2 separate regions of the Homo sapiens genome follow, and region 1 is linked to region 2. A link means that fine-mapping ties the variant in region 2 to the expression of a gene that starts in the linked region. Tissue or cell type: whole blood. Region 2 holds a variant in brackets; the other region holds the start of a gene. All regions are shown on one strand. Distances are between the middles of the regions.

Region 1 (8,108 bases), 410 kb after region 2:
CATAATCCTTAAAAACTCATTATAAGTAGTCATTTTTCTTCCCACGCCAATCACTATCAAAGGCTCTTCATGTTACTAGAGATAGACTGTAAAGGAAGGGCAACAACCCACTTGCCTGGCTGACATACACTGGACTGTGCCTTGGCTATCAGGGATGAGGGTGGGAGGAAAGGCAGGGCTTCTTCCCACCCTCATTTCTACATTCACAACTTTCATGTGGCCCCAACTACCTTTTCAGTCCTACCTCTCACTTCTCTTTTCAATGTTCGACTCTGGGTCAAATGGATTAACCACATGCTGTGTTTATATAAAACTATATGGCAATTAGTGATGTTTGAAAAGAACTTAGACCACAACCCAGGACTCTCTGTAGCTCAGTACTGGTCTCCTCCCTGTACCTGACGGCCACCCTTCCAGGAAAGAGTCAACTTTGTAGGACCTACATGTTCAAAAGCCACAGATATCTTCAGCTGGTCTCCATGGCTTATTTTGTTTTCCCTGGAATAGTTCCTAAAATGTACCCATAAGGTGGTTGGGTGTGGTGGCTTCTGCCTGTAATCCCAGCACTTTGGGAAGCCGAGGTGGGAGGATCACTTGAGCCCAGGAGTTCAAGACCAGCTTGGACAACACAGTGAGACCCCATCTCATAATAAAACAAACAAACAAACAAACAAACAAAAAACCCATAAGGTTAAAACGCCCAGCATTGTGATTCAATGCTTGGGAGCAGAAATAATACCACTTCCTGGGGCATACTCAAAACAAGAATTGTGAAGGCAATAATTTTAGAACAGGATTACAATGACTTCTGTGTGTAGGCATCATGAAGACAGTAATGCATGTTTGGAAAAGTTCAAAGTCCCTTTCTAAATAAAACCCTTATTTCAGGTAAAATACATGAATAGGATGTTCCAACTCAGGGGCTGGCAAACTTTCCGCAAAGGGCCAGATAGTAAATAGTTTAGGCTTTGCAGGTCATATGATCTCTGTTGCCATAAACACAACCAAATAGGCATTGCTATGACCCAGTAAAACTTTATTTACAAAAACAGGTAGAAGGAGGGATAGTTTGCTGACCCCTATCTTATCCTACCTTGATATCTCTGCTTATACAAATCTCAATTATAATGTCCATTCTTTCATCCGAGCTTACTGAAATTCCATCATCTTCAAAAAACATTCCTTCCTTTTCCTCCTGCCATTCTTAGCACTTGGAAATTAATGTTCCATTTATTCAGAAGTTTCCTACTTTATATACTTTGTAACTAATATTCCTTTCAAAGGGAGGAATTTATGGAAGGAAAATGGGAAGAATCAAGCAGGAAAAAAGGTAACTTAAAAAGAAGAGAAAATTTCTAGAATTCTAAGGAGAGTCTTTTCTGAGAGAGGTTTTCTTCAAGGTTAGTGAAATTAAAAATATATTCCTCAATATTTTGAGAAAAGTTGAAATGGACTCCCCGCTTCTGCCAATAAAATGTTTCCATTAGCTACCAGGCTAATCTCTAACATACTGGTGAGTACAGGGAATTCTCATGTCATGTGCACACAATAGTAATAGAAAGAGGAACAATAACCGTCTGTGAAAAACTAAATGGCTGAAGTTCAAAGATAATAAATACCTACCAGGCTCAGCATCATTCACCATTTTTCTCTTTTTCTTCTTTTTCTTTTTTGATTCTGAATTGGAAGACTGCATTGCTGCTTCTCCATTGGTTAATACAGTGGATTTCTGGGGAGACTTTGTAACTTTTATATTTCCCACTGCTTCTTGAGACATGCCTCCATTTTGAGTTTCTGATAAGCCCACATTCATGGGCTTTTGTTTTGATTTTTTAACCTTTCTACTTCCCATTGTTTCTTCAGATACATCTCCATTTTGAGTTTCCGATAGGGTCAGATTTGAGGCCCCTGTTTAAATAAACAGAACATATACTGTGACAAAGAAGGAGAAGTTTACTTAGAAACACTGAAATCCCAAATGAGAACTTCCATGGCTTCCTGACACAAATTATTTAGATTTTCTTCTCTTTCATGTAATTAAAACAACTTATAGTTTTATGGTGTTCCCTTATAGGGAAAGTAAGTTATCTTAAAGAAAAAATACTGGAAAAGGGAAAGCTATATTGATTTCTTAACTGCAAAAGACCGTACATCTGACTTTAAGGAGTCTAGGACAGGAAAACTTCAATGAGGTCAAATATTTAAACAGATGAGGTCAGATAATGGCAGTTACAGAATAAACATAAGTATTTGATAAACATATGATTAACTGATATATTGAAAAAGACATTTACAACTCATTCACACAAGTACTATTTTTCATACCACTTCAAAACATTCAACCCCAACTCTTCTAGACTGCAGTGAGTTGAAAATTCAGTTGATAAGACCACTTATTTGCTCCAATATTTATCATATGCAAATACAGTAATGCGTGCACAATGACATTTCTGTGAATTAAGGACAACATATACAGTGGCTCCATAAGATTATAACGGAGCTAAAAAATTCCTATCACCTAGTGCCATCAGTAACTGCAATGTCGTAGTGCAACATATTACTCATGTTTGTAGTGATGCTAGTATAAACAAATCTACTGTAATGCCAGTCGTATAAAGTACAGCACACATAATTATGTACAATACATAATACGTGATAATAAACTATGTTACTTGTTTATGTGTTTACTATACTTTTGATCATCATTTTAGAGTTTACTCCTTTTACTTATTAAAAAAAAATGAGTCGACTGTAAAAGAGCCTCAGGGAGAGAGGTATTTTAGAAGGCACTGTTATCATAGGAGATGACAGCTCCATGCCTATTGTTGCCCCTGAAGATCTTCCAGTGGGACAAGATGTGGAAGCGGAAGACAGTGAAACTGAATGTGTCTGTGTCTTTACATTTTTAACAAAAAGCTTAAAAAGAAAAAAAAATAAAATAAAAATCACATAGAATAAGGACAAAAGGAAACTTTTTGTACAGCTGTATGTACAATGTGCTTGTGTTGTAAGCTAAGTGTTATTAAAGTCAAAAGGTTAAAATTTAACAAGTTTATAATGTAAAAGTTACAGCAGGCTAAGGTTAATTTAAGAATAAAAGTATTAAAAAACTCAACAGTGTAGCCCAAGTGTACAGTGTTTATAAAGTCTATAGTGTACAGTAATGTTCTAGGCCTTCACATTCACTCACCGCTCACTGACTCGCTCAGGGTAACTTCCAGTCCTGCAAACTCCATTCATGGTAAGTACTGTATACAGAGGTACCATTTTCTAAATCTCTCATGTCATAGTCTTTTTACTGTACCTTTTCTATGTTTAGATATATTTAGCCATACATACACTTACCATTGTGTTACAATTCTCTGAGTATAGTACAGTAACATGCTGTACAGGATGACAGCTTACGAGCAACAGGCTATATCATGTAGCCTGGGTGTGTAGTAGATTTAGGTTTGTGTAACTAGATAAAGTTCGCAAAACGACAAAAGCCCCTAATGACACATTTCTCACAATGTATCCCCCCTCCTGTTATGCGATGCATGACTGTACCTGAGAATGTCCTTACCAAAGGTTCCCTGTTTGTTTACTGAAAAAGATAAAACACCATCTTTTGTTCAAATTTACTTACATATGCGCTGAAAAGTAGTAATGCTGTAGTATTATTCTATAGGAATTAGAAATACAAGAGTATTTCAAAACATATTCCTAAAATTCACAAACCTATTGCCTCCTGCAGAATTTTTTTTCAATTAATGTCTGTTGAAAACCAACTGGGGCAAGGCACTGTGCCTCCAAACTTTCCCTCGGGGAGTTTGTATCTTAACCTGGACAACAGGTTAACACAATTACTTCAAGATCTGTGGCCCCACTGTCAGGACACTGGGACTGCAAATGAGGTAGGTAAGAAAGGTGACATTCAGATAAAATCCTTTTCATTTAGGTCACTGTGCGGGACACAAATACGTAGAAGCTCTGGTGAGAAAGTGCTACGAGAACGTGTGGAAGTGGGTAGAGGAAGGCAATAGTATCAAAGAAGCTCTGTGGAAACAGCCAGACGGGCTTTTGGGGAAAGAAATACGGGAATTAAATAGATGTGAAAAGTGGGTGGAAATGAGACGTTTCATGCAGCATAACCGGAAATGAGGGATGAGGTGAGGTGCGACTTGCAGGTGGTGAGGGAACCAAAAGCTAAGGTGGAAATGCAAAAGGCAGGGTTAGTCGTAAGCCTAGAAGTGAACGGGGAGTCCTCCCGCTCTAACGTTGTAAGAAGACACTGATTGCTCAGAAAGGTCAGGAGCAGCGCTGGAGCCACGCGACGAGTGGGCAGCAGCGCGGGTCCCGAGTGGAAGCTGCCTTTTCACTCTCCCCAATCACACACGCTGCAGGGGAAGCTGCCTCCGTCACACAGAGCAGCTGGGCCCCCGGCCGCCCGAACGCGCCAGGGCTCGCGCGTGGGTCTTCTGAGCCACCGCGAGTCAACGCATCTCACCCTGAAACTTTAGGTTCCGCTGCCGCAATTTGAGGTTCCGCTTCTCGATCTTCTTACGCAGGAGTTTCATCGGCAGGTGTGACATTCTGCCCAACAAGTGCCTAGAATAAGGCGCCACACAGTACAGCTACTCAGTTCTCAGGCTGACGTTACTTCCCTTCCGGCCGCACGTGCGCAGCTCGGCCAACAGGAAACGCGTCACAGGAACGCTGGCACCCGGCGGAACGAAAATGCTCCAGAGCGGAAATGCTTCCAGACGCGCGCACCGTGATATCTTTGGCGACCAAAATCTTTGCAGCGCCCCCTGGAGAAGTGGAAGCGAGACGCTGCACTGGCTTCACACTGTGCTAAAGCTAACTTGAGCTCCCCCTAGAGGAAGACTGAAGAAAGAACGTGGAGGGGAAGGAGGCCTTAGGGAGTCCGCATTTTTATGTTCCTATCCTCTGTGGGTGCAGAACTAGAGTTGGCCCTCCCTGTACCTGAATTCCCTGTCTGTGGATTCAACCAACTCCCCCATTGAAAACATTAAAAAAAAAACAATTAAAAATAATACAGTGTGATAACTACTTTCATAGCATTTAGGTTGTATAAGGTATTATAAGTCATTTAGAAATGATTTAAAGTATACAGGATGTTGTGTGTAAAATAAATGCAAATATTACACTATTGTATATAAGGGTTTTGAGTATCCTAAGATATTGGTACCCATAGAGGGTCCTGGACTCAATCCCTTGTGGATACTGAGGGACAACTGTATTTGGGAAACTGAATAGAACTAAATTATATATATGCATTTCCAAACTTGTTTGGCCACTCTCCTCAGAAATACAATTTCTGTGTCACTTGGTACACATACACACATAAATATAACATTTCTCAAAATAATATTCTTGCTTTTCACTCTTTTTCCTTCAATTCCATTCATTCCATCCTAAATTATTCTTTTTAGCTTACTAAAAATACTGATTCCTATGAATTTAAATTAACTTTACTACATTAATAATAGGTTGACTGCAGTTTGAAAAAGAGGTTTATATATTCCTTAAGTATACCCAAGGACCCTTCAGCAGTCCAGGACAGAAATTGCAATGTGGCTAGCTAATAGTCATCTCTTTTTTGGGATGGGGAGGAAGACAGGGGTATGCATATAGTATTTAATTTTTAAAAAAATTGTTATCAACATTAAAATACTTGGAGATTTCCATAAAAATTCATATTTGTCTTTAAAAATTGGCCCAATGCCCTCAAATTCCCCTTAACAGTAATCAATTTGAGCTGAACAACTGGAAGAGTCCATGAAACCTGGATTAATTTGTTTACTTGGAGGGGCAGAACATGAGACCCTGGAGATTAGACCTGATCATAGTGAGGAACAGAGAGGGAGAAAACTTGGGAGGGAGTTTAAACAGAATGTGAAGGAATTGACTTCGAAATCACATTGGATTGGACTGGAAAACTAAGACAAACAAATAATAATGTGCTTAGATTAATTTGTTAATGATCAGGCAGGCTGAAGAATGATTCAGAAATGTAAGAGCGCACACACACACGCAAACATTTATCTCAGTGTAAATATATATGCCAGTTTAAATTTATGCATATATCAGTATATATATGCATATACACATATGTATCTATTTCTATAGCTCTATGTACATACATATATATTTACCTGATTACATGTGTGAGTTTTGGGTCTGTGACTTTGAAATAGATACAACTGAAGTATATATAGAAAGTGCTCAAAATTTGTTATTTCTTTTATGTTGTAACTTAAATTTGTGGGGCTATGTTTTGGTAGTAGTAATGGAAAGGTACTCCCTTTTTTCTAGAGTGTGACTTTTTCTAGCTAGTAGTGAAGATTGGCAGTCATTTCCTCAAAACCAAAAAAACCCACATTTACGAGGTGTTTAAGACATTTAGATCAGAGAAGCCGATCCTTTCAGGTGCATGGAAATGCTTAACGTTAGGGATTGATAACCTTTTAAGAAACATAGATAAAGCTACTGATGCCAATTCTTCTGGATTTTTAGAAGAAGAATGAGAAATTATAACTTCAAATCAACTCTCAAAATTAGGGTTGAGAGTTATTTTTAACAGAGTGAATTTCCAAGGCCACATCATCAGTTACTCTAGCAAAGAAAACAATGTCATTGGGTTAGCTACTCAAAAATTACCTGTGAGGATGAGGTAACAATCACGTGCTTCTGAAAAGCCTGTTGTTCTTCACAGCTGGAGCCTATCCCAGTATCTATTCAGAATGCGTTTCAGTCTTTAAAACTTCTTGCTTGGGCTCTCCATCACAGAGGTCTCTCTCTTCAGAATATGGTCATTCGCCATAAAACAATCGCATAATATAGTCATTATGCAACTATTTTTTGAGCATTTTTGTGCTAAGAGTGTGTGGTAGGCATGTGCCAAATCCTGGGTATAAAATGGTGGACAAGATAGACCTGGCTCGCCTAGGTGGAGCTTACAGAGCTTACAAGGAAGACAGAAAATTAAACGATTATGGTAAACTATGATGAATGCAGTGAAAAGGAAGCACATCACAGGAGCAACATCCTAGCCTTGGGAAGGGGTCTGGGGATGGAGTCTGTCATTCAATATTCATTATGCATAGGGACTGAGCCAGCAGCAGGCAGAAGCAGGAAGGGAGTTGCTGTCTTTTTTTTGTTGGTTTGTTTGTGTGTTTTGAGACAGAGTTTTGCTCTTGTTGCCCAGGCTGGAGTTCAATGGCGCGAACTTGGCTTACCGCAACCTCCGCCTCTGGGTTCAAGTGATTCTCCTGCCTCAGCCTCCCAAGTAGCTGGGATTACAAGCATGCACCACTATACCCAGATAATTTTGCATTTTTAGTAGAGACAGGGTTTCTCCATGTTATTCACGCTGGTCTCGAACTCCTGACCTCAGGTGATCCATCCGCCTCAGCCTCCTAAAGTGCTGAGATTACAGGCATGAGCCACCGCACCTGGCCAGGAGTTTCTGTCTTTTACCTCCTGACTAAAAATAATTAAGTTTAACATAGAACAGGTCTTATTCATGCTGTTTTGTTTTTCAGTTTTCACTTGAGATCCTTAAACCTGAGACAAGTGTTTGTAAAATAAAACGCAGATTTGTGTAGTTTGTCATTCAAATTAAAAACGTCCCACTTCACTGGGAAAAGAAATCAATCTATTTCACCAACATCATAGAATTGTGAGCCAGAAATAACTGACTCATCCTCTCGGATCACTGCATTAGGACTCTTGAAGTGATTTTCTAGGAACTTTCAAATGCTATTTTCTATAAGGTTAACCACTCTGTTGTGTATTGGAACTTAAAAAGTGCTATGTTATTGTAAATAAGCATGATGTTGCCTCCTTCACATTACCTGACTTTCCTGGACCAGCATCTGGTTCTGTGTATTTCTACATTGTAGAAAGCAGATGGCTGGTACTTAAGAAAGGTTTTCTTCAGTGAACTGATGGACATAAGAGTGAGAGATTATTTTAAAGAGCATCACCACAATTCATGACAAGTCATTATTGCAGTGGTCCTAGGAGCTGGAGAGGATACAGAAACATATAACAGAAACTTTTCTGTCAAGAAGTTTATTCATTTATTAATTTAAAAAAAT
Region 2 (8,108 bases):
GGCAAGTGGATTACATAGAGCCTGATGCCCAGGGTGGGTGGGGGTGACCCCTGGAGCCTCTCCTTGTCCTCAAGGCTAAGGAGGTATAGGTTGATCTCTTTCAATGCCCTTAGCGGGCTGTGCTCAGTGCCGGAAGCCAGAGTGCGGAGGGAAGGTCAACACTTTCCCTAGCCAGAGACAGAAGGATCAAGAGCTGCAGTTCTCAAATGTTTTGGTCTCAGAATCCCTTTACACTCTTAAAACTTATGTGGTTTATGTCTACCTATAATACATATAAAAATATATAAATATACTTTATTATACAATATAATTATATGTTTACATATATAAATATATCATATATACATATATAAACATAATACATAAAATATAATGTTTATATATAAAATAGGTTATATATTATATAAATCAACTATATACTTATATAAATATATAATATATATTATATGTTTATATGCAAACATATAAATACATAATATATAGACATACATAAATATAAATATATATATATATAGAGAGAGAGAGAGTTTATTTGTTTGAGACAGGGTCTTGCTCTTTCGCCCAGGCTGGAGTGCAGTGACACGATCTTGACTCACTGCGACTCCTCCTCCCAGGCTCAAGCAATCCTCCCACCTCAGCCTTCCAAGTCACTGGGACTACAGGCACATGCCACAATGCCTAGCTAATTTTTGTAATCTTTGTAGAGACGGGGCTTCGTCATGTTGCCCAGGCTGGTCTTGAACTCCTGGGCTCAAGTGATTTGCCAGCCTTGACCCCCCAAAGTGCTGGGATTACAGGCGTGAGCCACCACGCCTGGCCATATGTCTATTTGTATTTATTTATTTATCATTAATTTTTTTGAAACAGGGTCTCACTCTGTCTCCCAGGCTGGAGTACAGTGGCACAATCATGGCTCACTGCAGCCTCAACCTCCCAGCTCAAGCAATTCTCCCACCTCAGCCTCCCAAGTAGCTGGCACTACAGGTATACACTCCCATGTCCGGCTAATTTTTGAATTTTTTTGTAGAGATAGAGTTTCACCATTTTGCACAGGCTGGTTTTGAACTTCTAAATTCCAGTGATCCACTTGTTCGGCCTCCCAAAGTACTGGGCTTACAGGTGTGAATAACTGCACCCGGCTATATTTATCACAGCAGAAATTAGTATGTTAGTATGGAAATTGTTTGACCTTTCCAACCCCCTGAAGGGGTCTCAGAGACCTTCAGCTTTTCCCGGACCACACTCTGAGAACTGCTGCTCTGGCATTGCGCTGCCCAGACTTTGCTGTGCCCACATGACACCTGGAATCATGCTAAAATGCAGGTTCTAATTCAGTAGCTCTGAGGTACATAGTAAGACCACACTGCTGACAAGTTTCCAAGGGATGCTGATGCTGCTGGCGCTTGGGCTCCACTTCGAACAGCAAGGCCACAGAGATCGGAGGACAAAAAGTTCATCTTTGGCTAGTGTGCTCTTACATCCGGCCTTACAAATTGGACAATTTAATTTAAAATGGTGGACATGGGTAGAAAGGCCATGCTGAGTGGCGAAGATGGCATAAGCAAAGGTACATATGTAGGAAAATGCAACTTCAGCCGAAGTGTAGGTTCATAAAAACCCCAAGCTGCCCACTGCTCCAACCCCTAGGCTATGTGTAGCTATGTGTAGCTTCCAGTCCAGGCAGAGAAGCCACTGGTCTCAGCATCTCAGGGAAAGGGGTATGAGACCTATCCCCATCCAATACCATGATCAACAAACATCTATGAGTACCAGCAAGAAACAAGTAACTCCAGTGGACCTCAGCTAGCCTTAATTTTCCATCATCCATCCTCACTTCAATTTTCCCTTGGGAGTCATCATTTTTCCACATTCAGTCTAAGTAGTTTGGGTGGAGTTGACCCAAGGTAAGAACAAGATAAGAATCAAAGCACAACTCCCTCTGGCCACAGTGATGAGTTCAAGAATGGGCACAGGACCCAAAGGAGGCCACTGAGAGCCTTCCTGGGCCTTCTCATGGTTTTACAGAGAGACCACATGAGGAGGCCACCTAGAGAGACATGCCCAAGGGGTCCCAGCTGTCTGAGTCTTCCCAGCCCAGGCTCCAGACACATGAGTGAAGAAGCTTCCCAGATGACCTCAGCCCCAGAACCACCTGACTACAAGTGTCTGAGGAACCCTAAGCAAGAACTGCCTCACGGAGCCCAGTTGACCCTCGGATTCAAAAGCAGAATAAATGTGTGTTGCTTCAAGCCACTGTTTTGAGCCATTATTAGTATGCAATAATGGCCAGAACTGGGTCTGTTTGGCTTACCTATTAATTCCAGGGCTAAAATACCAGGAAACAAATCAAAGGCCAGGACAAAGACGCCACTGCACAAAGAACAAGTTCCCCAACTGTCTTTGCTTTGGACCAGCATGTTGGTTGTAGATTTTGTCAACAAGCTCTCACTGTGTAGCAGCCATCAAATAAGCTTTTCATGAGAATTAAGCCAAACAGTCCAGGCTGCAGTGGGAGCAGAATGAGCTTTCCATAAAGTTTGGTGGTCTCCATGATAACACAGGACACTGCTCGTTCACTGATGTTGTACTCGCTCAATTAGTTTCTTCATCTCAGATTGTAAAATCTGGATGGAAGGAGACATTTCTAATACTTCTTCAGGGTTCCAAAGCCTGTGGTAGACTGTAAGACACATACTGGGTGCTTGATAGACATTTGTCAACAGCTTGCCTGATTTAAATCTGGGCCTTATATTTCACATGGGGAGGCCATGGAAGCCCACAAAGCAAATGGAGGGTCACATTGGCCAACGGTTTTCTCTGATGGTACAGAGGTAAATGTCCACAAAAAATATTGGGTAGTAGAGGAAGACAGTTGACAACCCTTACATAACCTCCAAAGGTCTTAGAGAGCACAGAGTTGGAGTTGATAGACCAGGATTGAAATCCTGACTCAGCCATCAGGAAGCTGGAGGCATTCGGTGAGGCCCAGCCCCTACAAGTCTCAGCTTCCTTATCTGTAAAGTGGGAGTAACAGTACCTAGAAGATTGTGGTGATTAAGTGAGACATTCAATATAAGGCATATGTTGACATGTGGCAGGCACTCTGTAAATAGAAATCATCATTGTTATCATTAGCTGCACATTTGGGAATAAAACTCCTGGCTTACTTACTTTACATGGCAGTTTTGTGGATCAAGGGAGAATAGACAGAATGATGCTTTAAAAATATTAATAAAGTTCAATGTCAATAAAGTTATTAAAAACCAGAGTAAGGTCTAAATCATCTGACATAAATATCCCTTCTGTTTGCACATGCAAAGCAGAATGCAGAATGTGAGAAAAAAGAGTTGGGGAAAACCCAAAGCAAGAGGCACATCACTGATCCACTCACACAGAGCTGGAAAGAACCTTTAAAATCACCCAATTCACCTCGTTTTTCAGGAAGGGAACTAGGGCAGAGAGTGCCGCTGCATGGATGAGGCCACACAAGCTAGCAGGCAGGACCAGGAAGGGAACTCCCAACCCACATGCCCAGTCTGGTGCCCTTTTCACTATTTATCACCTTTCTGGCTTGCATTTGCTGTGTGATAATCTAGGTATCTGCCCATCAGAACATTCTTAAGCAGACACTGGATGCAACTGAAAAGTAAACAAATGCCAGATCAGTTTCATCGTTGGAACATTTCCTCACTTCCTGGCAGTTGCGGAGAAAATGCCTCTGGGGTATCTTTCTCTAATTTTCTTTCTCAATAATGGTATAAAAATGGTAACGAATGCTAAGGAGGAGTAATGTGTCTTGGGGAAAATTTAGCTTCTACAAGCTGGTTTTCCGTCCACCCTACAAAGTCACTGAGCTCTGGGATGCTGGCTTTCTAAGTCTGGCTGAAGCTCAACCATGAGGCCAAGTGCCCAGCTTTGACAAAGAAAGCTCTTCAACACTGGAAGAAAGATCGTCAATGTTGGTGTCTGAGTTTCTCTGTTATAATGAAGTGTTCAATGTTTTAAACACTGCTGCAATGAATGTAATGGTAGATTTAAAAGCTTTTTTTTTTTTT[A/TA]AATTGAGATGGAGTCTTGCTCTGTTGCCCAGGCTGGTGTGCAGTGGTGCAATCTTGGCTCACTGTAACCTCCGTCTCCTGGGTTCAAGTGATTCTTCTGCCTCAGCCTCCCGAGTAGCTGGGACTGCAGGAACGTGCCACCACACCCGGCTAATTTTTTGTATTTTTTTTTTGGTAAAGATGAGGTTTCGCTGTGTTAGCCAGGATGATCTCAATCTCCTGACCTCGTGATCCACCTGCCTTGGCCTTCCAAAGTGCTAGGATTACAGGCATGAGCCACCGCGCCCAGCCTTAAATGCTATTTTAATTTCTTGCATATAACGAGGCTGTCTTTTATTCTCTGGTTACCCAGGTTTGAAAGCCCAGTCACCTCTGACCTGCCTCTCTGCTTTGAGCTCCATGTGCTTTGGCCATCAAATCTTACCAAATCATTCTTTCTCTCCATCCCCATAACACTGGCCTGTAGCAGCCCTCATTCCTTATGACCACCATAGCCTCCCACTGGGATCTCAGAATCCAGGCCTTCTGCCCAACCCCAAATCCTTCCTGGGCACAGCCCCTGATTCACCTTTTACAAATGCCCCCTAGGTCTGTCACTCTGGGGCTCCCCTCATCCACAGGCAAGTCTTAGCCTGCCTTTATCTCTCTCCTCTTTCATTCCTGCTCTATCTCCCTCCATCCTCTGAAACAAAAACTAATTTGTTGTTCCCTCCGGATTGCATGCTGTTCCCTGCATTTGAATGCCTTTCTCCCACCTCAACTCATCGAAATCTCAACCAATCTTCAACTCCTAGGCAAATGCTACTGCTTCTTTCATGAATTCTCTGCTCCTTACTCCAGCCAGACATCACGTGTCCTTGTTCCCTTGTCAGGCTTCCCTCCCATAACCTCAGATCAAGCCACCACATTGCTGTAACCATGCACTTCCTGGTATCTATGTCTTTGCTTGTCACAGTGCCCCTCCCAGAAGACATATTCTCTTAGGGCAAGGAAGATATTTCATTCTCTCCCCCCAGCAAAACAAAGCATTTTGTTTTCCACGTTCCATAAGCTTAATAATTATTTGTGAATTGAATGAAAAGAAAAAACATAATACAACTACTCACCTGTTTTGGGGGGCTTTTTTTGTTTTTAACGGAGTGCCTTCCAAGAGCTGAGGATTGGATTTATTAATTCTGATTTTTTACTGGATATCAATTTGAAAATCAAAGGCTGTCCCCATGCCTCAGTTTCCTCATCTGTGACCACAGGTCAAGAATAATTCTTCCTAACCTACTTTACCAGGCTACTTATTTTCACCTAAAAGGTGGCAATATTATGCTTGTTTTGTTTTGTATTGTGTTCTACTTTTAAGCAGGCTAAATAAACAGAGACCTGGAGGATTCTGTTTGGAAGAGAAAGACGATGGGCCCCTTACTTGGAGTTCATTGCCAACCCACAGAAGAGAGACGGGTTCTCTCACCAACCAGAAAAGAAACAGCTGTGGTGACAGATGTTGGTGGTGCTGATTATTCCAGGGCTGTTTGCATTCAGATTTCCCAGGCATTCTCGGTTTTCTGAAGTCAATCTCTTTTGATGGGTTTTCCCAGGTCTTGGGGGTGAAAACAAACCGCTCCTCTTGCCGCACGCATTTCATTTATTTCCTCTCTCTACTCCAGAAACACACAGATAAAGGACACCCACCCAGCACACGCACTCCCCACACCCACGTGGCCTCACGTTTCGTTTTGAACATAAATGGCCTGGGGGAGAGAAACCTTTTCACTCCTCCTTAGGTTGCTTTTTGGTTTTGTAGGTATGTGTGTTGGAGAGGTGGGGGGAGAGGTCTGGCCAAAGTACATCCAAGGCCAGTTTCTCCAAAAGATGTGGAAACTTCTGATCTCACCCAGGGACTTCAACAGAATACCAAAAAGGGGTGTCTTTGTTTCCTCCAAATGGAGTATTTACTTTGAGCTGGTAAAATGAATTAATGAAAAGAAAGGACACCTTCAGCTTCTGGGGAAGGAGTGATAAGTAAAATCAGAGGAGGGGATTCCTTCTTACCCTGACTCCCCAAAATCAAGGGGAGGATGGAGGATGGTGAGAGAGGGAGGATCCCACAGGGTATTCAAAAATAGACCCTGCTAGAAAACAGGCTGCTCTTTTCTGGGATTAAAAGTTGCCTCAATACTGTAAGGCCCATGTATATGCAAGCAGTTGGGAGTTATTACGGGCCTAAAATAGGAAACCATTCGCTTGATCTTTCGCTTCAATCCTATTAGGGGCCCCCTGGAGCTCGAGAGAGATACCAGCCTGTCATGTCCCTGTTGCTGTGACGACCCTGTCTTTATAGAACAAGAAAGAGAAATGGTAGTGATTGGCAGACCTTGCTTGCCCCGTATGTAACACAAAGGGCGACAAAACGAAGAGGAAGTGAGGCCCTTCTCCGAGGTCTGACGCTTCTTAACCCTACACTACCTTCCACCTGGTCCCAGTCGCCCCCACCCCGACCTCCTCCAGAGGGAAAGGAGAGACCACTGGCCGTTAAGTGCTAATACCCAAAGATCACGAATGACTTTTTTGGGTCTAATTGCGAGTAATTTTTAAAGTCCGTCTTTGATCGACTTGGACGGGAGAAAATATACGGGAGGGGCTGGAAGCGAAGATGGGGGCTGCTCAGGCGACGCTGCCAACCGGGCGCTGTTTGCGGGGCGCTGGGCGGGGCGGCCGGGCCTGACAGACCCCCACCATCTGGTGCCAGACTCCAACCCGCCGGTCGTAAATAACCGCCTCCCTTTTCGGGCTTTCTCGCCCGGCTCCTCCGATTCCCGCTAAAGTGGGAAAAGTGTAAAATGCTGTTTGCGTCCTTTTTTCTCCGCTGTGTGCGCGGGAAGGAGGAGAGCGGCCTGCAGTGGCGGACGCGGGGCCGGGCCACCCCCCAAAACCTGGCGCCCGGCGGGGCGGCCCGCAGAGCCAGGCGGCAAAGGCCGCGCCCCGGGCCGAGCTCTCCGCCCGGCGCCCGGTCCCATTAGGGGCTGTTTATTGCAAAGTAAAACCAACCTATCGCAGCGGCGAAGGCACTTTGTCTCTGCCGGGTCCCTTTCGGAAAACCGGTGACCCGGCGGCCCGGCGCGTCTCGGGGCGGGGGCAGCACAGCGTGCACGGTCCTCTCCAAGCGTTTTGCTGGGGACAAGTGCCTTTCTCTGAGGTTTACAACTCGCCCCGGCTCTGCTCAGGCGCCCACGGTAGCCGGAACTGGGCTGCAGCCTCCCCAGATCACACTAAACCCGAGCCGTTGCGAGGCCCCGGGTTGCCCAAAGATTGACAACGATCAGGAGCTAAGTCTGCTTTCCGGGGACCTCGTGGGGAGCTCTGTGCCCAGCACTTTTCTCTCGGACTCTCTGCTGGGGGAGAGAAAGAAAAGAAAAAAAAAGAAAAAGAAAAAGAAAAAGAAAAGTTTCTTTCGGGGGAAGCAGTGAAACAGGAAATGAAGATTCGCTCTGTAGTTTAGCTGAAAGGAAACGCTGTCTAATCCTGACATGTATCGCATTTAAAATAAAATTCTTTTATCTTCATGCGTGCCAAGCCCCCAGACATTGTTCGGACTCCTACGGGGGGAAAGACGTCATAAAATGAGAATTTGTTTCATTGTGGGTCGCTCTGCCAACACCGGGCTTTAAAGGAACGCCAAACAAAGCGGGCGCCAGGAGGGGGCTTCCCAGGTGAGCCCGAGACGGGATCGAAACTCCTCTCCAGTCCACGAAAACGCCCAAGAATAAGTTGTTGAGTAAAACCCACCCGTCCTCCTTGTAAACCCCCCAATTTCCTTTCCAAAACCCCATCCCTCTCCCAAATAAATCACGAGCGGCTCTCTTCCCATGCCAAGCGCCCTTGGCTTCACAATAAGCCCGGAAGATTTTAAGCAACGATATTGAGGTTTGGGAAGAGGGAGCGTGGGGCGTGGGATTCGCTGCTGCCCTGGGTTCAGTGTTCTTGGTTCTTTTCACGCCAGGCGTGATAAAGCAAAATATTTTAACTGCAACCTACAAGCTTGTTTTTTATCTTTTTTTCCCC

Evidence for each region. PIP is the estimated chance that this variant, and not a neighbour inherited with it, causes the effect.
Region 1: DDX18 starts here. The variant in region 2 is fine-mapped to the expression of DDX18 in whole blood (INTERVAL, PIP above 0.99).

The regions. Positions count from the first base shown.
Region 1 is chr2:117,811,244-117,819,351 of GRCh38, reverse strand. DDX18 (DEAD-box helicase 18) reads right to left here and starts at 4,661. Exons shown (of 14, transcript NM_006773.4): 1 at 4,490-4,661; 2 at 1,624-1,908. The coding sequence starts at 4,574. RefSeq lists enhancers at 3,804-4,339, 4,415-4,464, 4,485-4,534, 4,665-4,794, 4,340-4,877 and 1 more.
Region 2 is chr2:118,223,428-118,231,535 of GRCh38, reverse strand. LOC105373578 (a long non-coding RNA gene) reads left to right here and starts at 4,948. Exons shown (of 5, transcript XR_923249.3): 1 at 4,948-7,756. RefSeq lists a silencer at 6,941-6,990. The variant A/TA (reference allele first, on the strand shown) is at 4,056.